Homo sapiens: one gene and its partners. The protein of the gene in region 3 purifies or fractionates together with the protein of the main gene of each other region. This does not show direct contact. Each region holds a gene or a part of one and is shown on either strand. Other genes may lie near its edges.

Region 1 (7,505 bases), on a different chromosome or scaffold from region 3:
CACTTGGCTGTTCAGTTCCTAGGTCCCCTGAGACCCAGTCCCATCAGGGCTGGACTTGGCAGGCAGGAATCCCCTGGCATTCACTCAAGCTGGCAACAAAGGAGAAGCTGGCATGAAACTTAAATTCCACCTTGGCTCTCAGCCCTAAATCCACCGTGCCTGTCTGGGAGTGTCATGGCATGCGTCTTGGAGCCAGAGAACAAAAGATGGCAAGTGCTGCAGGCCCAGACAGGCAAGGACCACAGCCCATATATCCTGCACCACTGTGCTGCCTTCCAACAATTTTGTCTTCAAGAACAGCACCTAGACACGCATTAGGAGGGAAAATTACACTTCCACCAGCACAGGCATGTTCGCCCCTTCCCAGCTGGTAATTGAGTTTCGTCGTCAGAGCTATCACCTAGATCAGGTAAGAAAATGGGTGAAAAGTACGCCAAGTGCCATTACTGGTCAATTTTACTTAAAACAGTTTTCTCAAACCTGGAGAAAGCAAACCATGCACCACCTTGGCTCCTCAACTAGGCTTCCTAAACTACCAAAGAGGCTCTTTAAGCACCTCAACCTTGGGGGAAAACAAAGAAAACAAATCCTCTTCTGCTCTGAACCTGGCCTAGGAGCCCTGCTCCTCTGGACCAGCCCCTGACCTGCTTTTGGGTGGGCTACTACTCTCCTACCCAGTGTAAGGTATGTAAGATGAAGGAGCGTGGGAGAGAGAGAGGGCCCAGGCCTAGTTTCTGCTATTCCATCTGGACCATTCTATTATAGGACTCAAAGACAGATACAGAGAGAACTTTGGAATAAGGCCTGGGATAAAATTTTGGTGTTATCACTAAAGAGCTGCTACTTAACCTTCTTTTGTTCTGTTTCATCACCTGTAAAATTGGGTACACCATCTACCTCCATGGGATGCTGGGTTATGGGATAATATACTTAACATACCTTAAAAAAAAAAAAAAGCAAGATTCCCTTTGGCATGCATATAGAATGGGGGAGAATACAAATTAGTTTGGCCCCAGCAACCTGAACCTTCTTCTTCTAGCATAACTCTGGGATCATGACCTCAGAAAAACTTTGCATATACCTTTCCATAGACAAATGTAGTAAACACAACTCAAACCCAAGGCTGAAATGCTATTGGCCGTGACTAATCTGAGGTATGCCTTGGAGAACTGTCTCCACAGTTCAGGCCTTTCTAGACCAGTCCTAAAAAATCTCAAGCACACAAAGTATATTCTTAAATATGGTTTAATACTCTTCTCCATTTCTGTACATCACAACACCAAGATTTTGCTGCTTAGTATCTCTCTGCAGAGGCTATAGAGAATGCAAAGGCTACGGTTTTCACCCCCTCTTATATGTGTTTGTATGTGTAAGTGTAATACATATCAATATATATTGATACACACATCAATATATAATGCAATATATATCACCGAAGAGAACACATTGATTAAAGAAATACAAAAATTTGGCATCATTTCCAAACTTAAATAGTAAAAATAAAAACTACAAAAGGAGCTGCATACCCTAAATGTATCATGTGAAACAACAAGCATATTCAAAAATGTAAATTTACATCCAATTTCTCTGGTCTTGTCATATCACATCAGACCCATTTACAATGGCAAAACCCTAAGGTACTGCTGTGAAGAGAGCATGTTTGCTCGCTCTTGGGTGTTCTGCAAACAAATAGCAGAGCCCAAAGCAAAAAAGCCTGTTCCGGTGAAGTCTCCCACGTTGGTGAACACCAAATAATGGACTCTTCTCACAGGGGGTTGAGACATCAGGTTACACATTGACAGACAGTATTTGGACCTCAGAGTACAGTGTGAGAACCAGAAACTTTACATTTAAGACATACTCCCTTCATTCAAGTGAAACAGGATTATTGGAACGATAGGCAGGTCTGTAACCTGGGAACAAGGAGCTGGTTCAGACCAATAAAGCTACGAGTGACTGAATCAAGTCAGTAAAGAACAGCAGTCAGGCACTAAAGTGTTAAAAGTACCCAATTTGAAAACCAAATGCACCCCACTACCCTAGTCAGTGTGGAGGTGATACCAATTGACTTTTAAAACCTTTGGTCCTTCAAAGTCCATTTGGTATACTTTTTTCCATCGCTACCACTGGGCACGTACTATACACTTTGTTCAACTGTCACCACCCTGGGCACGCCATGACCTTGCATATCAGCTGGGTTCAAGTCTGACTTACAGCCCAGCTGTGAAGCATAAGCTTCAGGGTTTCAGGCCAACTTTTGGATCCAACATGGTCTTAAATCCATGGTGCCAGAAGCTGTGTCCCATCCCTTCCCACCCGCCCCTAATTTCTCATGTGAGAAGTGCTTGTAAGTCCCACATTTGAAACAGATGCTCCAACCCCACCAGGAGGTCAGGAGTTTATAATTACATGCAGTCATACATGTCTGTCGTTCCTGTGAAAAACCTTGCAGTTCATTTTAATAAATCAAAACATTCACATAATCTCATGCCATCCAACACAAGGAAAACACATCCACCTCCCTTTTAACAAGGATTGACCCAAGCAAAATAAAATCCTCTTTAAATTTCTTCGCTTCCACTTAAATTGCATGTTTTATTTCTCCCAATCCCAGCAATAGCACAGAAGCCCCATCATATCCATCCCAAACCGGTTTCGAGTAGGTTAAGGTTATAGGGACCCTTGTCAGAACATTGATACAAAGGGCTCCCAAACGCCGGGCACAAATGTGTCTGCAAACAGATGGAAGTAAACAGTGCACTGGCCCAAATGCTTCATGAGTCAGTTTGATTTTGCAATGCAATTTGCATCCTTGAAACTGCCAGTCTGGAGGGGGACGGGGTAGCGTGAGGGAGTGAAGTTGAAAGTGCCTCCTATTAGCTCACCCTTTCAACATTAAACAGAGACCAAGAGAGAAATGGTTCCAACATTTCACCACATATATTTCTTCTTACGCAGTCTAAGCTGAGAATGCCATGTAAATGGGTCACTGCGAAATGCAGCAATTTAATTTTTCTCCAATCAAAATAAGAAACAAACCAGTATGATCTCACTTCTATTAACTTTTGAAGGTTTACAGCAGTTAAAGTATTTTTGCTTCTATGTATGAAGGTTAAAAAAATCATTTTTTTTCATAAAATACAAGAGCAACCAATTTCACCATCCAGTAAAAGTAAAAACTGGGATTCTTTTTTAAATTAGTCCAAAGTGGCGTTTAGGAACTTAGTTGTAGGCTGCTGCGCTGACACCATGACAAACCAAAGTGTAGGGCTGGGTCTGGTTTTGTTTCGGTTTTCTTTTCAATATCCAATGCTCATGGATTAAGTTCTGGAAATGTTCCAATTGTAAGGCAGGGATCTGTTTGGATTCCACCATGGGTATGCTCCTTGGGTTGGATGCTGGAGGGTGAGGCACGTTTTGCCGGACCCATGTCGACTACCTAGTAGTCATCAAGGTCAAAAAATTCATCGTCTCCTCCTTGGTATTCCATTCCCTGGAAATCTACTCGGTACCGCAAGATACCTGGGGAAACAAACCAAAAGGTAAATTACCTGTGTTCATGGGATGGGCATGTGTGTAGGTGGCTGGTAAGGGAATAAGGGAAGCCCTATTCTCTTGCAGAATTGCAGAAAGCAAAGAGGTAATAATAAACATGGGTCCAAATTAGGAACCTGCACCTGCTGCGTCAATCACCTATCCCAGCAGATAATAAGCACCTCACCGGAAGCAGGGCTAGGGCTAGCCAGGAGGGACCTTGACCTGAGACCCTGGTTTTAAGTTTGGTTTGCTGATTTGCTACTCACCTCCAATTCCACCAAATCCTTTCACAAACTGAGACCCTTCTTGTGATTTATCTGTGACAATTTCCAACGTAGCTCCAAATTTTTTATAGTTGTTAGCAAACCATTCCAACAGGGGCATGCTCTCGATAAGCTCATGTTCCTGTCCGGTCTACAGGGATGACCATGAGATACAAAAATGGGGGATTAGGATATATGAAGGCTAATTAGTCCCTCTCACAGCCCCTTGCCCACCTATCACTCTCATCCTCCCATTTATAGGCATGTCTGTGTGTAAAGCTCTGTAAGTCATCTCTGGTTTTGATAACCTAATGGATATCAGCAGAGAAATTCGGATTATTTCAAACAACACTTCTCCTCAGGCTCTACCCTCAGCTATGAAATACCAACACAAAAACTCAGTGGGTATTCAGCTTATGATTCCTACTGTTGACTCTAGAAGTCAGGCTGTTGTAGTGTCTCTAAGCAGCACCCATTCAATGGCTCAGAAGAGACATTCCAGGACTGCTTTTGGGAGTGGCCTCGTAGAGAACAAAGCTCTCCAAACCAGAATTTGAGGAAGCTATCATTTAAACCTATCTCATACGGGAGGGTCATACTTTCAACTGTTGTGATGCACTTAGAGCAAACCAGAGAAGCCACTGCAGTGGAAGAGCTGATCAAGTGAAGAAAGCAGCACAGGTTTCACAGTGCAGGAGAGGCATTATGTAAATTACATTTTCCTCCCTATTAAATTTCAAGGATAATGAAATGTTTTCCTGATTGCTTAACTACTTAAAAACAAAGACAAAAACAAACAAACAAACAAAAACCAGGCCAGGCATGGTGGGTCACGTCTGTAATCTCACCACTCTGGAAAACCAATGTAGGAGGATCACTTGGGCCCAGGAGTTCAAGACCAGCCTGGTGAACACAGCAAGACCCCATTTCTATAAAAAAAATTAGGCTGCCTGGCATGGTGGCTCACGCCTGTAATCCCAGCATTTTGGGAGGCTAAGGCAGGTGGATCACCTGAGGTCAGGAGTTCGAGACCAGCCTGGCCAACATGATGAAACCCAGTCTCTACTAAAAATACAAAAATTAGTCAGGCGTGGTGGCGGGCGCCTGTAGTCCCATCTACTCGGGAGGCTGAGGCAGGAGAATTGCTTGAACTCGGGAGGTGGAGGTTGCAGTGAGCCGAGATCACACCACTGCACTCCAGCCTGGGTGACAAGAGCAAACTCCACCTCAAAAAAAAAAAAAAAAAAAAAAGGGAATGAGGGCTTGTGCCTGTACTCCTGGCTACTCAGTAGACTGAGGCAGAAGGATTGCCTGAGCCCAGGGGTTCGAGGTTATAGTGAGCTATGATTGTGCCACTGAATCCAGCCTGGGTGACAGACCAGGACCCTATCTCAAAGAAAAAAAAAAAAAGACCGGTCATGGTGGCTCACACCTGTAATCCCACCACTTGGGAGGCCGAGGTAAGTGGATTGCTTGAGCTCAGGAGTTTGAGACCAGCCCAGGGCAACATGGTGAAAACGCCTCTCTACAAAAAATTCAAAAATTAGTTGGGCGTGGTGGTGTATGCCTGTAGTCCCAGCTACCAGAGAGGCTGAGGCAAGAGGATCACTTGAGCCCAGGAGGTGGAGGTTGCAGCGAGCCGAGATCATGCCACTGCACTCCAGCTTGGGCAACAGAGCAAGACCTTGTCTCAAAAAAAAAAAAAAAAAAAAAAAAAAAAAAAGCTGCAGCTCCTTCCCTGAAATCAGATTCGTATGTGGCAGATAGATGACCACCTCCCACAGCACCCCCAATTAGTATAAGGTTTGGTTTCCCAAAGCTCACCCTCTACACAGCCAGTACTCTAACACACGGATTTACGCTTGCACGTATCATCAAACCAAGAAAATAATCACATACCTCTTTGTCTGTGAAATGAGATTTATCCTTTTCTTGCTCTGGAGTTAGATAGAGAATTTTCTCCTCTGTAGTATTAGGAGGAAAAAATGTGTTAACCTGGCTCTCATATACTAATCTGTGTAAGCTCCATAAGATGAGGTTAGATGAGAAAAGGGCTCAGGGACTCAATCTCTCAACATTTTTTCCATAAACATGTTAGCATACACTGAGTGTCTACTAGGTACAATGCTTCAACCATAAGGAACATCAGAGATGTTCAAGATATAGTCCTGGTCCTCAGCAGATGTAACAATCTTAAGCAGACGTTAAACAGTTCAAGCAGAAAAATCTATGCAGGAATGTGCTACAGACTGAAGGACTGGGGAACAATGGGTAGATCTACCTTCTGATTGCTCCTGAAATCAGCCATCCCTCCCAAATCTCCACCCCAGGCTTCCTGGCTCAGTAACAAATAGCAACCTTATTTTCTAATTCTCATACCTTCTGTGCCTTGGCAATGAAGAACATATCTCATTATATCCAGATTTTCATAGACTATTAGAATTTCTACAGCTCCCATTTCCAAAGCCTTTAGTGTATCTTCAACGCCAAAACAGTACTTGCCCGTGTCCTGGCTGATTTCATCAAAGTATCGTCCTACGATTAGGGATCAGTCAACAGGATATATATTAAAGTTTCCCTAGTAGATACAAACACACCTATTCGACCTAATGACTAAAGAAGATAAAAAATAATGCTTTTACTGAGGCAAAAGAGTTAATAAAAATACTAAATATTCCTTTTTACATTTTTGGTACCTTGTCTCATACATACAATCACGTACATACACACACACACATACACACACACACACACACACACACACACACGAAAACATTTCACAGAATAAGTAGTTGCATTTCACCGATACCTATTAATTTCTTCTCTTGAATGAATTTCACGTTGGAGAGGACTTCAGTAGATAACTCAATAGCTTGGTTGAATCCATTTTCACCACCATAGGATATATCAACTAATTTTAAAACTTTTGATTGTAACCTCTAACACACAAAAAAAATATTATTAGTACTTACTGGTACTTATTTAAAATATTATTAAAACACCTTTACTCAAACCCACTAACTCTTAATGGTATGCAAAGCTCAGCATTATGATCACTGAAGTCTAAATATGGGGAAGGAGCCCAATTTAATCAAAAGCTGCTCTTAAAGTGAACAGCACTGCCAATTATATCACACATTTTATTAGACCTACTATAGGACAACTCATTAAGTGCAAACAAAAATAAGTTATTGTGGAGGAAAGGGGGGACCACTGGCTCCTGCCAAATAAGGTAGTAGAGGTTAAGACGGGCTGGGGAGGGTGGCTCACACCTATAATCCCAGCACTTTGGGAAGCTAGGAGAGGCAGACAGCTTGAGTCCAGGAATTCTGAGACCAGCCTAGGCAACATGGTGAAACCCTGTCTCTACCAAAAAGTACAAAAATTAGTTGGGCATGGTGACACATCCCTGTAGTCCCAGCTACTTGGGAGGCTGAGCTGGGAGGATCACTTAAGCCTGGGAGATCGAGGCTGCAGTGAGCCATGATTGCCACTGCACTCCAGCCTAGGCAAGATAGCCAGACCCAGTCTCAAAAAAAAAAAAAAAAAAAAAAAAAAAAATATATATATATATATATATATATATATATATATTTTTTTTTTTTTTTAAAGGCAATTTCTTTGGTGGACCTTCTACCATAAGGCTACTTCCTCCAGATCTTGAAAGTGTATTATGGCTGAGCCCATGTTATAAAATGTGCTTTA
Region 2 (7,863 bases), on a different chromosome or scaffold from region 3:
AGCATCCCGAGTAGCTGAGACTACAGGCGCCCACCACCATACCCAGCTAATTTTTTGTATTTTTAGTAGAGACGGGGTTTCACTGTGTTAGCCAGGATGGTCTCGATCTCCTGACCTCGTGATCTGCCCGCCTCAGCCTCCCAAAGTGCTGGGATTACAGGCGTGAGCCACCGCGCCTGGCCCTATTTACATTTTTACATTTAGATAAATATATTTAGTAATACCGGGTAACATAATTTCATTCTCTGTGTACTGCTCCGAGAACATATCATTGTGATAAGACTTCCATTTTATACATAAGAAGCTGATATTCTACAGGATTTAACTACAGTAAAACTTGAGAGAATCAAGAGCTTTTAATACTTTTTTAATTTAAAAAATATTTAAAATTTAGAGTTGGGGTCTTGTATGTTGCCTAGGCTGGAGTGCAGTGGCACAACTGCAGCTCACTGTGGCCTCTAACTGCTGGGCTCAAGTGATGCTCCCACCTCAGCCTCCCAAGTAGCTGGGACTACAGGTATGTGCCACCAGGCCCGAATAAGTTTTTATTTTCATTATTATTTTTTGAGACAGAGTCTCACTCTGTCGCCCAGGCTGGAGTGCAGTGGCTCCATCTCAGATCATTGCAAGCTTGGCCTCCACCGCCCCCGCCCACGGGTTCAAGTGATTCTCGTGCCTCAGCCTTCTGAGTAGCTGGGACTACAGGTGTACCTCACCACGCCCAGGTAATTCTTTTTATTTTTAGTAGAGACGGGGTTTCACCATGTTGTCCTCAAACTCCTGACCTCAAGTGGTCCACCTGCCTCGGCCTCCCAAAGTGCTGGGATTACAGGAGTGAGCCACCACGCCTAGCGTAAGTTTTAAAATTTTTTGTAGAGATGGGGTCTCACTATGTTGCACGGGCTGGTCTGGAACTCCTGGCCTCCAATGATCCTCCTGTCTCAGCCTCCTGAGTTGCTGGGATTACAGACATGAGCCACTGTGCCCGGCAGTTACAAATTCTTGTATAGTCTGTTTACGCTGGGCCCAGTGGCTCACACCTGTAATTCCAGCACTTTGGGAGGCTTAGGCAGGTAGATCACTTGAGCCCAGAAGCTCGAGACCAGTATGGGCAACACGGCAAGATTCCCCCCCGGAAAAAATTACAAAAAATTTAAAAATTGGCCAGGCATTGTGGCATGTGCTATAGTCCCAGCTATTCCAGAGACTGAGGTGGGAGGATCACTTGAGCCTGGGAGGTTAAGGCTGCCGTGATCATGTGAGACCCTGTCTCAAAAAACATACAAAAAATAAATAATACATAGTCTAGTAAGAGCAGACATTGCAAGGAAAGGGCAATTAAAAATTTCAGGGTGGGAGGAGGAAGCTATATAAGAAAGGAAATGTAATCATAGTCTGCACCCTCTTTAACAAGCATTTATTTAATGTTAGCTACACTGTGTTTACTGATGAATTCCAACTGCCTAGAACAGCGTCTGGCACATAATAGGTACACAGTAAATGATCAATAAATATTAAAAGTTTTGCTGTTGACTTAACAGTATGATACCATGATTGTTTTAAAATATATTTAATATTCAGAAAAAGTCTGTTTTTCTATGGCTCCAGGCACCACACATTCTTAGAATTAAGGATGAAAAATAGTACCTGAATGTGATACATGACAGTAATAAAACAAAGGTAGACAGAAAAGAGCAATGTACCTCTTGATAGAAGGCTACTATGCACACCACTTGAATCACATGAGGCCAGAAGTTTGAGATCAGCCTGACCAACATGATGGAAACCCATCTCTACTAAAACCAACAAAAATTAGCCAGGTATGGTGGTGCATGCCTGTAATCCCAGTTACTTGGGAGGCTGAGGTATGAGAATCACTTGAACCTGGGAGGCGGAGGTTGCAGTGAGCTGAGATCACGCCACTGCACTCCAGCCTGGGCAACAGAATGAGACCTGTCTCAAAAAAAACAAAACAAAACAAAACAAAACCCAAAAAAACAAAAAACCAACAACAAAAGAAAGCTACTATCTACAAGAAACTCTTTTGTTTAATGCGGTAAAACTTAGCAAGATCTTATGTAGCTCTCCAAAACATAAAAATTTGGTATTTTCAAAGATCTCTACAGCAGCCCTGTTGGAGATGACGCTGATGAACCACATTTAATTATAAATAGCCTAGGACATTCTGCCATCCAGAATTTCACTTGTCTTTTTTTTTTTTTTTGAGATGGAGTCTCGCTCTGTCACCCAGGCTGGAGTGCAGTGACGTCATCGCAGCTCACTGCAACCTCTGCCTCCTAGGTTCCAGCAATTCTGCCTCAGCCTCCCAAGTAGCTGGGACTACAGGCGCCTGCCACCACGCCCAGCTAATTTTTGTATTTTTAGTAGAGACGGGGTTTCACCATGTTGGCCAGGCTGGTCTCTAACTCCTGACCTCATGTAATCCACCAGCCTGGGGCTTACAGGCATAAGCCACCGCACCCGGCCCCACTTAGTCTTTTAAAAACAGAGTTTTTTCAAATATGTTACAGTCATGACAATCAGATTAAAGCTTTTATGAAAAATTCGTCTGAAATGAGGAAAGTTCACACTCCCAATGCCACCTCAATTCCTATCCTTTCACCTCATGTTTACATTTTATTAATAGAAACTACATAAAACATATTATTCAGATGTCTTCTTACAAGCCCACAAACCTAGTCTTAGTTTATATTGAGCCACCAAGGTAAGGGCATTTTTCAGGTACAGCTATCCATTTCTAAAAGTATAATACAATTCTTTTGGATTATTTTATTTTATTTTATTGAGACTGAGTCTCACTCGGTCATCCAGGCTGGAGTGCAGTGGCGTGATCTCGGCTCATTGCAACCTCTGCCTCCTGGGTTCAAGCAATTCTCCTGCCTCAGCCTCCTGAGTAGATGGGATTACAGGCGCTCGCCACTGCACCTGGCTAATTTTTGTATTTTTAGTAGAGAAGGGGTTTCACCAAGTTGGTCAAGATGGTCTCAATCTCCTGACCTCGTGATCCACTCGCCTCAGCCTCTCAAAGTGCTGGGATTACAGGCGTGAGCCACGGCACCCAGCCTGGATTACTTTTTAAGGCAGAAGTTAGCATGATATGATAGCATATGCAATAGATAACCCACTTGCTCACAGCTATTTCCCCTTGGCAGTGGTTGATAGTGATGAACTGGAATACACTTCCCACCCTTAAAATGAACAGAATTCAGGAGTAGTAGTTCATTTTTTCTCAGTGTCTTCTTAAATAATGTGACCTAAGACATGGAGGAAAAACTACCTCAGAGGAAAAGAATAACATCTAGTATTTTTTAGTATTTTCAAACTAAAACATAACACACACACCACGTGCACACACACACACACACACACCTCTCACACACTCTTCTCTCCCAAATCACAAACTCTCTTTTAAGTCAAAATCCAGTTTACTTGATACAAACTTAAATGATATGGAAGAGAATCTGTTCTCATCATTATCCCTATTGTTCCCACATTTCTGTATAACATCTGTCATGATCGCCAGCCTAATGTCAGTCATAATTTACACAAATATCTCAAATATGGGAATTAAATACTATTTTGATATTAAATTATTATGCCTACCTCCAAGTAATAAACAGATATAGTCAAAAGTATCCATTTATCCGGATGAAAATGCTCACTTATATGCGTATAAATTATCTCAAAAAAATTATAGAATGAATGAATGAATGAAAAGAGAACCTACCAGTTTGTAAGGTTCATTTTTGGCATGCTGAATGCAAATAAATAAGTTTACTAAGTGAGAAATCGTAAGAGAAGCTGGAGGTGGCAGGAGGAGCCTGGGATGGAGCATAGGTCTGATCCTAGTGCAGGGAAGAGGCTGCTAAGGTTGACACGTCTCCCCTCTCCTTCAGAGCTACACACACTGGACATACAACATGGCAAAGTGGCAAATAATCACATCACTCAAAGTCTTCCAATTATAATCGTTCAGATGGGTAGTTCGTATCTTAACATTCTTATGAGTATATTTTAAGCAACAAACATTTCCCAAGTTAGAAGACAAAAACTGAAATCCCTGAAACTATAAAAACAACTGTAAACCTACTATTACTGCCTAACAAAAAAAAAGACTTTTCATTCAAATTAAAGATTATCAATCACTTATTAATAAAACTATTCTGCTTGAGCAGTAGTTTATTGGAAGCAGATGTTGCCATAGAACTCAGCACCAGTTTTCATACAGGGTATATATTCATCCATCAAGATAGCAAAAATTGCACTATTTCACATTACTTCAAAAGTGAAAACATTAACAGTTATAATAACAAGAACTAAAATAATTGGCTGGGAATGGTGGCTCACACCTGTAATCTTGGCACTGTAGGAAGCCAAAGTGGGTGGATTGCTTGGGCCCAGGAGTTCGAGACCAGCCTGAAGCTACAGAGCAAAACCCCATTTCTACAAAAAATACAAAAATTAGCCAGGCGTGGTGACACACACCTGTAGCCCCAGAAACTCGGGAGGCTGAGGTGGGAGGATCACCTGAGCCCAGGGAGGTTGAGGCTACGTTGAGCCTTGAGCCATGATTGTACCACTGCACTCCCACCTAGGCAACAGAGTGAGACCCTGTCAGGAAAAAAAAAGGCTGAGTGTGGGGGCTCACACCTGTAATCCCAGCACTTTAGGAGGCCAAGGCAGGAGGATCATTTGAGGTCAGGAGTTCGAAACCAGCCTGGCCAATATGGTGAAACCCCATCTCTACTAAAAGTACAAAATTGGCTGGGCGTGGTGGTGCATGCCTGTAATCCCAGCTACTTGAGAGGCTGGGGCAGAAGAATCACTTGAACCTGGGAGGCGGAGGTTGCAGTGAGCCGAGATAACATGAATACACTCCAGCCTGGGAGACAGAGTGAGACTCTGTCTCAAAAACAATAATAAAATAAAATAATTAAAAAAAAAATTATACTGGCTACTCTGGGCACACTGCCTATGGGGTAGTCCTGCTCTGCAAGAAGCAGTAAAGAAAAAATAAAAATTATAATTTTTAAATTATATTATTTTTTGTGGAGACAGGGGTCTCGCTGTTGCTCAGGATGGTCTTGAACTCCCAGCCTCAAGCAATCCTCCCACCTTTACCTCCCAAAGTGCTGGGATTATAGGCATCAACCACTGTGCCTGGCCCCAATTTTTCAATAATATAAAACTGACAATCTGATTACTTCTGCAAATAATAATAATAATCAGTATTAAAAAAAATCTAGACTGGGCGCAGTGCTCACGCCTATAATCCCAGCACTTTGGGAGGCTGAGGCAGGCAGATCACCTGACGTCAGGAGTTGGAGACCAGCCTGACGAACATGGAGAAACCACATCTCTACTAAAAATACAAAAATTAGCCTGGCGTGGTGGTGCACACCTGTGATCCCAGCTACTGGGGAGGCTGAGGCAGGAGAATTGCTTGAACCCGGGAGATGGAGGCTGCAGTAAGCCAAAATCATGCCACTGCACTCTGGCCTGGGCAACGGAGCAAGACTCTGTCTAAAAAAAAAAAAAAAACTAAACCATGATGTGATAAAATACAAAGAAAACATTCCTTTCTAAACTATCATTTGGTATCATTGGTATCATCTTAATCCTTGAAATTCCTCCCCCATGTCAATCATTTTAAGACTTGGTGACTTCGTTCTTTCATTGTGTGCAGTAAGGCTGTGTTTAAGAAATAGATTTTACCATATATAGTTTCCTCTTCACAGCAGTGTGGTTTAAACTAGTTCCCTTACTTCCCACTGAGTCATCAAATGGTAAGAATATGAACAGTATAATGTTCTTTCAAGCAAAAATGAAAAATTCTATCTACATCTGCTCTAAAAGTACATTTTTTTTTTCTCTTCAAAAAAATAATAACCTGGGATTTATAAAGCCCCATTTGGGCTTATTTAATATTTATTTTCCCCTTACTAATTTTATCTCATGGTACTGATGTTCTTTAGTAAGTTAACTGCACAGTGACTGTTCTGATCTTAGGCCACCAAAATATTTATTCTACTTATACCAAAGCATTTTGCAAGATGAAACCAAATTTGGTTTTGGTTTGTTTCTGTTTCAAACACTCCTAAATTCAACATATAAAGTAGCATAAGCCCGATAAAGCAGGCCACAATCAACTACAAATGTCAATTACATAAATGCAAATGCAATTATTCTAGCACTATAAGCTTCTCTGTACGACTGGACCTTATTAAGCACTGTGCCAGCAACATAGCACGCACTGGAGAAACCTTCATTTTGTTGGTGATCTAACTCAATGCTGATGAAATCACCCTAGTCTGGTAACAAGACACGTAACACCAGGGGCCTGGGCCTAGCTCGTGAAGAGGACCTAAACCTAGAGTTTCACAGACCTCCAGATTTTCACCTATCTGGGCCACTTTAAGTGGCTTGATTTCAGAAGGAGGTTTGAATGGTTAAAATCCACATAAATTATTGGATCAAATGAGTTTTCCTCCTCTGGGCAACCCTACTGAGACACTGGTCAAGCTGGGAGATAGAAAATCAAGCGGGACCAACATTGGTCATGTGATCGTAAGTACAAACTTGTTTCCAGGCAAACTTGTCCAACCCATGGCCCACGGGCTGCATGAGGCCCAACACAAATTCACAAACTTTCTTAAAACATTATGAAATTTTTTTGGTGATTTTTTTAGTTCATCAGCTATTGTTAGTGTATTTCATGTGTGGCCCAAGACAATTCCTCTTCCAATGTGGCCCAGGGAAGCCAAAAGACTGGACACTCCTGTCCTAGAATATTTAATTTGGGTCTGCCAGAGAGGTTAAAAGAATCGTAACTTTTTAAAAAGCCTGTAATTTTATTTTTATTTTTACTAGATATGGGGTCTTGTTATACTAACCCAGGCTAGTCTCAAACTCTTGGCCTCAAGAAATCCTCTCACCTCGGCCTCCCAAAATGCTGGAAATACAGGCATGAGGAACCACACCCAGCCAGCCTACAATTTTAAAACCTAAGGCATGTAAGGAGCAAATGAAAACACCTTAGGATAACAACTATTTCCATAAATTTGCAAAATTACATCTGAATATCTTCTTTAATATTTAATTATAAAGGAATCATTATAACTTCAGGTATCTAAATAAAATCAAGATGATTATTCATGTCTACAAATGGTAAGAAACAGAATACACAATCTAAGCGGTTCCTAGTCCTCTACATACTCAGAACTATTACAGCATTCCTGTTATATGATTCATGTATTTTAACAGCACTGTTTCTTCATTTGAAACCAATCATGTCCATAGAAAATCTGCATAAAATTTTAAAATAACTAGAAGCATAAGAACAGATAAATTTTATTTGAATTAATTACACTCACTTTTTTCATTTATGACAGGAATTGATCACTTGTCTTAAGGAAAAGAATCTTAAAAACATGGATTAGACACAAGACTAATCAATAACATACTACAATCAGCTTTTTTTTTTTTTTGTGACAGTCTCACTCTGTCGCCCAGGCTGGAGTGCAGTGGCGTGATCTTGGCTCACTGCAACCTCTGCCTCCCAGGTACAAGTAATTCTCCTGCCTCAGCCTCCCAAGTAGCTGGGATTTCAGGCATCAGAAACCACACCCGGCTAATTTTTGTATTTTTAGTAGACACGGGGTTTCACCATGATGGCCATGCTGGTCTCAAACTCCTGACCTCAAGTGAACCTCCTACCTCGGCCTCCCAAAGTGCTGGGATTACAGGCATGAGCCACAACGCCCAGCCTAAAATCAGCCTTCTAATGTTAGCTAACTAATGGAATAGTAACATAACATTAGCTTCTGACAGCAGGGTGCAGTG
Region 3 (8,013 bases):
TTCAGATCTCAAAAATATCTGACCATTCTGAGCAAGAAAGTAGTAGAATTGTACACATTGCCATGAGATGGCACTTTCTAAGGATATCACTAAAACTGAGTTTCTTCATTAGAAAAAAATCTCAAAAAAAAAAAAAAAAGAAAAGAAAAAAATCTCACTTTTTTTTTTTTGAGACGGAGTCTGGCTCTGTTGCCCAGGCAGGAGTGCAGTGGTGTGATCTCAGCTCACTGCAACCTCCGCCTCCCTGGTTCAAGCAATTCTCCTGCCTTAGCCTTCCAAGTAGCTGGGATTACAGGCGCCCACCACCACACCCGGCACATCTCACTTTTTATCATCACCTGAATGCCTGGTGATACCAGAGCAATACAGCTACAAGAAATTCTATGAAGCCCAAGTCTTTCTATCCTTGTGTGTACTGTGGAATTAATACCTCATTTCCTGCCCATATAACTGAAGTGCAACAATGAAGCAGCATAGCTGGGGTGTATTGCACACCTACTGAAATAGTGAAACATGCATCTTTAATCTTCAAGCTGAGGCCATGGTCAGCGTTCCCTGGTGGGCAAGTAGGGAGAGCCTGGCTCGGGGATGGAAAAGTGGGTGGTTTTCCTACCCTATGAGTGGAAGAACCAGAGTCAAAACTGTATTTGGGGCCCCACTGGTCCTAAAATAGAGAAACCAAAGGTCCTATAATGGGGCGGTAGGTTAGCTTGATTTAGGAAGTTCAGCTATGATATAATTTCTACCTCTCTGTACTACTTCTGATTTTTAGAAAATTCATATTCTAAATGCTAGCAGGCTTCCTAAGGGACAGGCTTTTTTCTCATGCTAGTCAACAAATATATCCTCTGAGACTCAGTGACCACTGGCCATTTCAAACAACAGAATAATTAGCACTACATCATCACATATAAGGTCGTACCAAACATTTGTGTAACACTGTGTTTATGTGGACTTTTAAAACGCTTGCTGTTCTGGTCTCACAATTAAAGAATTGATACTTACGTCTTCCAAATAAAAGGAAGAGAATTTTTATAAGCCCCTTTTTTATATTAATCTCTACTAAAAATAAAAAATTTGCTATGTGTGGTCGTGGGTGCCTGTAATCCCAGCTAATTGGGAGGCAGAGTCAGGAGAATCACTTGAACCCAGGAGGCGGAGTGAGCCGAGATGGTGCCACTGCACTCCAGCCTGGGCAACACAGCGAGACTCCGTCTCAAACAAACAAAAACAAACAAACCAAAACTCTCTATGTGATTTTTTTTTTTTAGTTGGAATAATGAAGGAAAGCTGTTAAAGATAATTGAAAATTGTGGTTTAAACCAAACTAATCAAAATATGGTTCAAAATAGACTGAATTCAAATTTATGATTACATCCAATATTTTGAAACACATTTGTTGTCATCTAAAAGTTCGACAGACTATAAACACAGTTGTTCAGAATGTCTCCGATTTATGAAGTGTTTCTTGAGCATTTATTGTATGCCAGGACTGTGCTAAATATGCTACTTGCTACCTCTTTCTTTTCATAACAATCATATGTGGTAGGTGTAACTTTTATCCCCATTTTATGGATGAAGAACTTAAGGCTTGGTGAGGTTGTCACACTCTCGTGGGTTTTGGTAGTAGAGCTGGAAGTCAAAGCCAAGTCAGTCTTTTTATTGGCTATACTAACCACAGAATTTTCATTAAATCAGTCTTTAAAAATGTTTTTGGGCCAGGAGTGGTGGTTCACCCTGTAATCCCAACACTTTGGGAGGCCAAGGTGGGAGGATCACTTGAGCCTGGGAGTTCAAGAGCAGTATGGACAATCTAGTGAGACCCTGTCTCTACAAAACATTAAAAAAATTAGCCAGGTGTGGTAGTACGTACCTGTGGTCCCAGTTATTCCAGAGGCTGAGGATTTGGCTTGAGCCCAGGAGGTCAAGACCTCAATGAGCTTGTGCCACTGCACTCCAGCCTGGGCGATGGAGCAAGACCCAGTCCCAAAAAAAAAAAAAAAAAAAAAAAAAAGGTTTTTGGTTTATCTGGGACTCTTTTAGTTTTTGGTTGAAATAGTAAAGAGGCACATTTGACACAACCTTCCTTTTAAAGAGGATGATGATTTTATAAACCTTTACCACCCTGAGCTCTACTCAGCTTTTGTTCCCCTGATGCGTTAGAGCAGTGTATCTGCCAGGTTGTCTTCAATGGACTCCTGCCCAGTTTCAGATGCCAAAGGCTGCAGGTTTCCAGGAGAAATGGTTTTGCATATTTGATGTGGCTGTGTCTTCTCTGACTTAAACTCTTGGAATTCAGAAAACATTTCCCCAGCAGCATTGACGCCCACATTCAACTCCCCCCTTGCACACCAGCCGTTTGATCTGGTGATCTGGCCAGGATGCTCACTAAGGCTACCTCTCTTGCCAGGAGCTTTAGAGACTTTTTTTGTTGTTTCCCGTCTTGACTGAAAAAGAAAATTGGCTTGACCTTATCAGGGTCATCATAAGAGAAGTCATTTCTGGTCTGTTTAGTTCTCTTGTAGGATACAAATAAAAATGTTATACCTTTCTTCCCCATTACAGAGCTCTTTGCTCCCTTCTTCCAGTATTACAGTGCAAGTGGCTTTACATTCTCTTTCCACATTTTGGATAGTTTCACATTTTTCTTGAGTGTCATGTACGATGTGGTTTGCTAGGATGAGAAAATCATAATCCTAGGATTGTTTTCTTTTGCTTTCTAAAAGTCATATTTATACTTATATGTTCAACCACCTCAAGCTGGCAGAAGACCTTGTACCCGCGTTGTAGATACAATCTAACAGATGTGTGTTCTCTCCTGTAGGTTGACATGGTAATTTTTTCATAAGTGAGTCAGTTTCAGTGTTGCTATTATTTCCACCACAGTTGGTCTGTCCCCCAGATAATTGGCATTTGTCATCATCATACGTAGACCTCTACTCATGGTTCTTGTCTCCAGTCTGCCAGTTCCTAGCATAGTGACTCTCAGCTTCCGTTCTCTCATCTGTCAACCGGGAACACTAAATTCTGCCTATTCCCGGGGTGGATCAGATGTGGGGATGGGTAAAGAAGCACTTGACATTTCAGACAGCATTGTAGAAAACTAATTATTCATCCTGTTAGTCAGCCTCATATTTCACTTAATGCAACTTTGCCTTTATTTCCCCTCTGAAGATTCTTCAAACTTCATGAGAGAAAGTGTGAACCTATTATTATGACTGTTCCCAGGAAGGTGAGTGCTGAGTTTTCTAGACAATCCATATTTTAAACAAATGTAAAAATAAAATTCAAAAATCCCAGGCCTTTCTTCTTCCTTACCCACGGGTGCCAAATGTCTCTTGTAGTCTGACCTTTTCCAAGATGACCTGTATCCTGACACAGCGGGGCCAGAGGCCGCGCTGGAGGCAGAAGAGTGGTTCGAAGGCAAGAATGCAGACCCAATCCTCATCTCCTTGAAGCACGGGTACATTCCAGGCAAAAACAGGGATCTCAAGGTGGTCAAGAAGAACATTCTGGATAGCAAGCCCACTGCAAACAAGAAGTGCGACCTGATCAGCATCCCCAAGAAAACCACAGACACGGCCAGTGTGGTGAGGACCAGTGGAGTGCAGGGGTGCTTGGCTGGTTCAGGCTTTATCCTCTAGAAAGCCCTTGTGGTCCAGGGCGTCGGCGAGTACTGTCCCAGCTGGGTGCTCAGGGGTTTTCAGTAAATGAAAAAGTGGGAGAAGGTCCTCGGTCACGTGATGGTGGTGGTTTGTGGCAACACTTGCCTCCTTTAACGGAGTTAAAGCTCCTTTAGCCCCATTAAAGGAGCCAAGTGTGGCCACAGACCACCATGATTGGGATAGGTATCAGTTTCCTCCTATCTCTCAGTGTGAACAGGAGCCTCTTGGGTTTTTCCTGTCTTTTGCCAAACTAGTTAAACCCTTCTCTGATTTGGGTAGAAATAAAATATCATGGGAGTGTGGGGTCATAGGCACCAGGGAGAGGAGGTCCCTGGAAGGAGGGAGTGGCACGTGTTCAGATGTAGCTGAGTGGCTACGACAGAAGGATCTGGCGGTGTGGGGCTGGCAACAAGGGGGATTTAGGCAAGAGCCCTTTGGGTGGGGAATTGGGAATCAAGCCTGCCTTTGACTCGCTGCGGCCACTGGAGAGTGCTGCTGTTGCCGGGAGAGCAGGTCCTGGGTAAGAGAGAAGGAGTGGACACACAGGGCAAGGGTTTCCCTCCCAAGAAGGAGCCTCACAGATGGCAGGAGCTCTGTAGCCTCTGGGAGAGTCACCCCTCTCTCTGGTCAGATAGAAGTTACTCTTGATGGAATGATTGGGGTGGTTAGGACGTAGGACACTGTTGAAGGAGCCTGTTTTGTCCTATAGTCTAACTGTGACCCAGGAGACCCTTTGTTTGAGTAAATGCACAGGCTTCGGGATCAGAAGTGGCACTGTGACACTGTGACACACTGTTGTTTTGCCACGGGATCTCAGATAGATCGGCCAGTGCTCATTGCATTCAAAGCCCCAGACATAGTAGGGCTTTGACTTCTCTTTTCAACTTGGTGACTATGGCTTGCCGTTTGCAAAATAGAAAACTACATTTTATATCTTACAAGTTTTGAACAGTGTTGAACTTTGTTTACTGCATTTTAATCACTGCCTCCTTTTTTTGTTTTCTTAGCAAAATGAAGCCAAGTTGGATGAGATTTTAAAAGAGATCAAATCTATAAAAGACACAATCTGCAATCAAGATGAGCGTATTTCCAAGTTAGAACAGCAGATGGCAAAGATAGCAGCCTGAAGGTCCCACCCCCACCCCTACAGAAAAAATGGGAGCAAGAACTTGTGCTTGGGAGCTGGTTATTGGTGTGGTCCTAGGGAGGGCGGAAAGGGAGGCACTGCCATTTGGAGACATTCCATTTCAGATTTGTCAACCAGCGATAGGCCACATTCCAGTAAGAACTCAATTTGTCTCCCAAATTTGCAGAAACAAAACGTGATTTAAAAGCTGAGCTTTTTATCAGAAAGCTTTTTTGATGTTTTAAGTGTTATGTGACTTGTTGAACTTTTTAAAAAGTGCTACTTTTAAAATCCCAGATACTCTGAATTTTAGAAAACAAACTAATTCTGATTGTGTCGTGCCCAAGTACCCTTTTTTTTTTAATGAATAGGGACCAATGCCACATTGCTTTTTATATTTCTTTCTTTTTTAATGTTGCCAAAACCAAAAGTAGCTTTGTTTTCCTTTGTATTTTGCTACTTTGCAGTATTTGTGTGTGTGGTTTTTTTTCCTTAATTTGAAAGGGACAGCACTGTGTATGTTTATAAACTAAATGAAGATAAGATATTATTTTGTATAAACATTCATCTGAGAACAATCAAAGCAGTAGCCACATGGTGCTGGCTCCTTTGCAGCACAAACCTGGTCATTTTGATGACTGTACAACAGGAAGACTTGAAAAATCACGTGGATTCATATTACCACCGCTCTCATTTCATGGAGTCTTCTGATCAAAAAAGCTCACGTCGTATTTCTTCTTTTCCTTTCTCTTTTCTAGAAATTGGGTGTTTGTACCAGAATGGAATTTTGCTTCTCGGTTATCCTGTGCTTCAGATGATTATAATCTAACCCAAACTAGCATGTGTTTCTGCAGTTTGTTACACACCTAGGATCATATTGCATTCATCACTTTAAACATCATGTTTCAGGTTTTGGTCAATACTTGACAAGGGTGCCCAGGACAGGAAGACGTGTACTGCTGAGTGTTCCTTCTTGCCCTTTTCAGCAGCTTGCCCAGCTCTTGAGTACAGTGGTGGGGACTAAAAATGTGGGCATGTGGAGAGGGGTATTTGCCCTGGGTGATCCTGTTTCCCTGTGCTGTCCCCATGCTGTGTTGGAGGAGGAAGTGGCTCTCCTTCCACCAACAAAGCTCCTGCTCTACCCTCTTCCTCACATGTGCTGCGACCTCTCTCAGGGCTCCCCCAGCCATTCCTTCTTTCCTTCCTGCCTTTTAGCTCTAACCACATTAAGCTAAGACAAGGCCAGAGGGTGCGATTGAATGAGTATTGAGACTGAGGAGAATGATAGAGAGTGAAGCAGAAACAGGAGCACAGACCTCTGCTGTAGCTTTAATGCATACAAACATGTCCCTCCGCACAACTAACCTGCCCTGCCTCTCCATCTCTCACCAAGGCTGCGTCAAAGCACAGAGGCTCCCCGGACTCGGAGGGGGCCAGAGACTGAGCTCTGGTCACCTGTTCATTCCTCGGTTAGCTGGAACTTTGCCCCGTTTCCAGTTTCTTATAGTGCATGCTTGGGAAACAAGATTTAAGGAGCCTCTGTTTTGGAAGGGCTGTCTGTGATTGAACGTGAAATGTGTAGTGCCATTGGGACCACGAAGGGAATTCTTGCACATGCTCGTGCTGGTGTGGGCATGGGACTGGCTGGAAACGTCTGTATGCAGGGAGCCAGGGTGAGGGCAGAGTGTGGTGACAGCCGAACTTGGAGTAATGTCCGTGTAGAAAAAGGACCATGTTCTTATCCAGCCAATACTGGGAGTGCTGTCTCCACAATTTCAGGGCATCTGAATGTTTGATGTGGTTTTGTGTGTGTGTATGTATGTGTTTAATATTGAAGTGGATCATGAGATGTAAAGAAAACAATAATGGCAATGACTTATATTCAAATCTGTATTTGTTTCTTTATCAATGTAATCTGCTGAGGACCTTTTGTCTAAGATTCAGTAGTGTTTTAAGGTTCTGATATCGAATTAATGAAGTAAAGTTGTTGATGGTGGTGAAACACCGTAGGGCATGTGGTTCAAAGAGAAGCAGGAGGGCAAGGGAAAGTTACCCTGATCTTAGTTTGTAGCTTATGACTTATTTAATGAATGGATGCCCAGCCAAGCTCAGAGTAGGCGCCCAAAGCATTGTGGATTATTTTCCTGTTTTGTCTTTTTTTTTTTTTTTTTTTAAGCCATGACATCCCAGAAGAGGACAGTGAATTACTCCTAGGTCGGCTCTTATAGAGTGGCCATAGTGTTCTGTCAAAACACTTGCTTCCATTTTCAGAGATAAAAATCATTGATTACAAAATGGTGTTTGTGTTTATTTCACGCCTTGGCTGTCTGTGAGGCAGCCCCCACCTCTCTGCCTGACATAGCTTCTCTGACTTTGGTGGACGAGCACGGTGCCATACTCCTCTCCGGGGGTAAGTACAGGGGAAGCGCGTGTGGGTGGCTCAGTTCAAGTACAAGTGAGGTCTCCAAGCCAGTCAAGCACTGTGTTTTGGCTTCCAGCAGACCTGAGCCTTTGGATCCTGCCTCAGACCTTTGCCAGCGGTGTGTCCTGGGATGGGGTTCCTAATCCTTCTGAGTCCCTTTTCTTGAAAGGAGGATGATAATTCCATGTAGTTCAGATGAGAGGAATACCTGTGTGGCCACACAAACAACCCTCGCTGCATGGCCGCTACTGTTACTATTATGAGTTGATTTTCTGACAGAGTCTTTGAAAGCACTTTTTCTTCAATAGAAGCAAAATTCTCTTGGCTCAGCTGTGACTTTTATTCCAGCAGGCTTCCAGGGTCAGTTGAATTGCAGGGCTTCCCTTTCGCACTATGACATTGTCTCGTGACATTTCAGTGATTGTAGCAAAGAATTTCCCACTGTTTGCTTTTTCTGAATATGATGAATGGTCAGCATAAAGCTCCCCTTCCTCAAATGCCTTATCTTAAAGTTGCTTTAGTCTATGAGAAGAATGGCTGCCATGTTCTTGGTCCACTCGTGGCTGCAGGAAGTAGAAGTTGGCAGGGCTCTCTGTAGACCCGAGGTGCCCGCAGTCAGCCAGGAGACGCGTGGTGGTCTGTTTATGACTAACTTGTTTTCTCACTCGGGCCACCTTGATTCTTTGCCAGAAGACCTGAAGGTCAGCATGCTGGCCCCAGACAGCCAGCCAGACCTCGTCTGGGGGGAACTTCCATTTTTTTTTTCAAGGTCACTTCCCTTGCTGTACTTGGTATTCTAC

What was found. The genes of interacting proteins can lie anywhere in the genome.
Region 1: the proteins of CORO1C (region 3) and ETF1 fractionate together in Homo sapiens (co-fractionation; 2 studies listed by BioGRID). This does not show direct contact.
Region 2: the proteins of CORO1C (region 3) and ACTR2 fractionate together in Homo sapiens (co-fractionation; 3 studies listed by BioGRID and IntAct, with this or other methods). This does not show direct contact.

The regions. Positions count from the first base shown.
Region 1 is NC_000005.10:138,504,866-138,512,370, forward strand, and holds the end of ETF1 (eukaryotic peptide chain release factor subunit 1), read right to left. Parts: intron 6,740-7,505; coding exon 6,610-6,739; intron 6,336-6,609; coding exon 6,180-6,335; intron 5,765-6,179; coding exon 5,700-5,764; intron 3,952-5,699; coding exon 3,804-3,951; intron 3,523-3,803; coding exon 3,440-3,522; 3' UTR 1,230-3,439; downstream 1-1,229. UniProt on the Homo sapiens protein: Component of the eRF1-eRF3-GTP ternary complex, a ternary complex that mediates translation termination in response to the termination codons. The eRF1-eRF3-GTP complex binds to a stop codon in the ribosomal A-site.
Region 2 is NC_000002.12:65,230,697-65,238,559, reverse strand, and holds part of ACTR2 (actin-related protein 2), read right to left. Parts: intron 1-7,863. UniProt on the Homo sapiens protein: ATP-binding component of the Arp2/3 complex, a multiprotein complex that mediates actin polymerization upon stimulation by nucleation-promoting factor (NPF).
Region 3 is NC_000012.12:108,644,182-108,652,194, reverse strand, and holds the end of CORO1C (coronin-1C), read left to right. Parts: intron 1-3,174; coding exon 3,175-3,232; intron 3,233-3,344; coding exon 3,345-3,590; intron 3,591-4,672; coding exon 4,673-4,792; 3' UTR 4,793-7,086; downstream 7,087-8,013. UniProt on the Homo sapiens protein: Plays a role in directed cell migration by regulating the activation and subcellular location of RAC1. Increases the presence of activated RAC1 at the leading edge of migrating cells.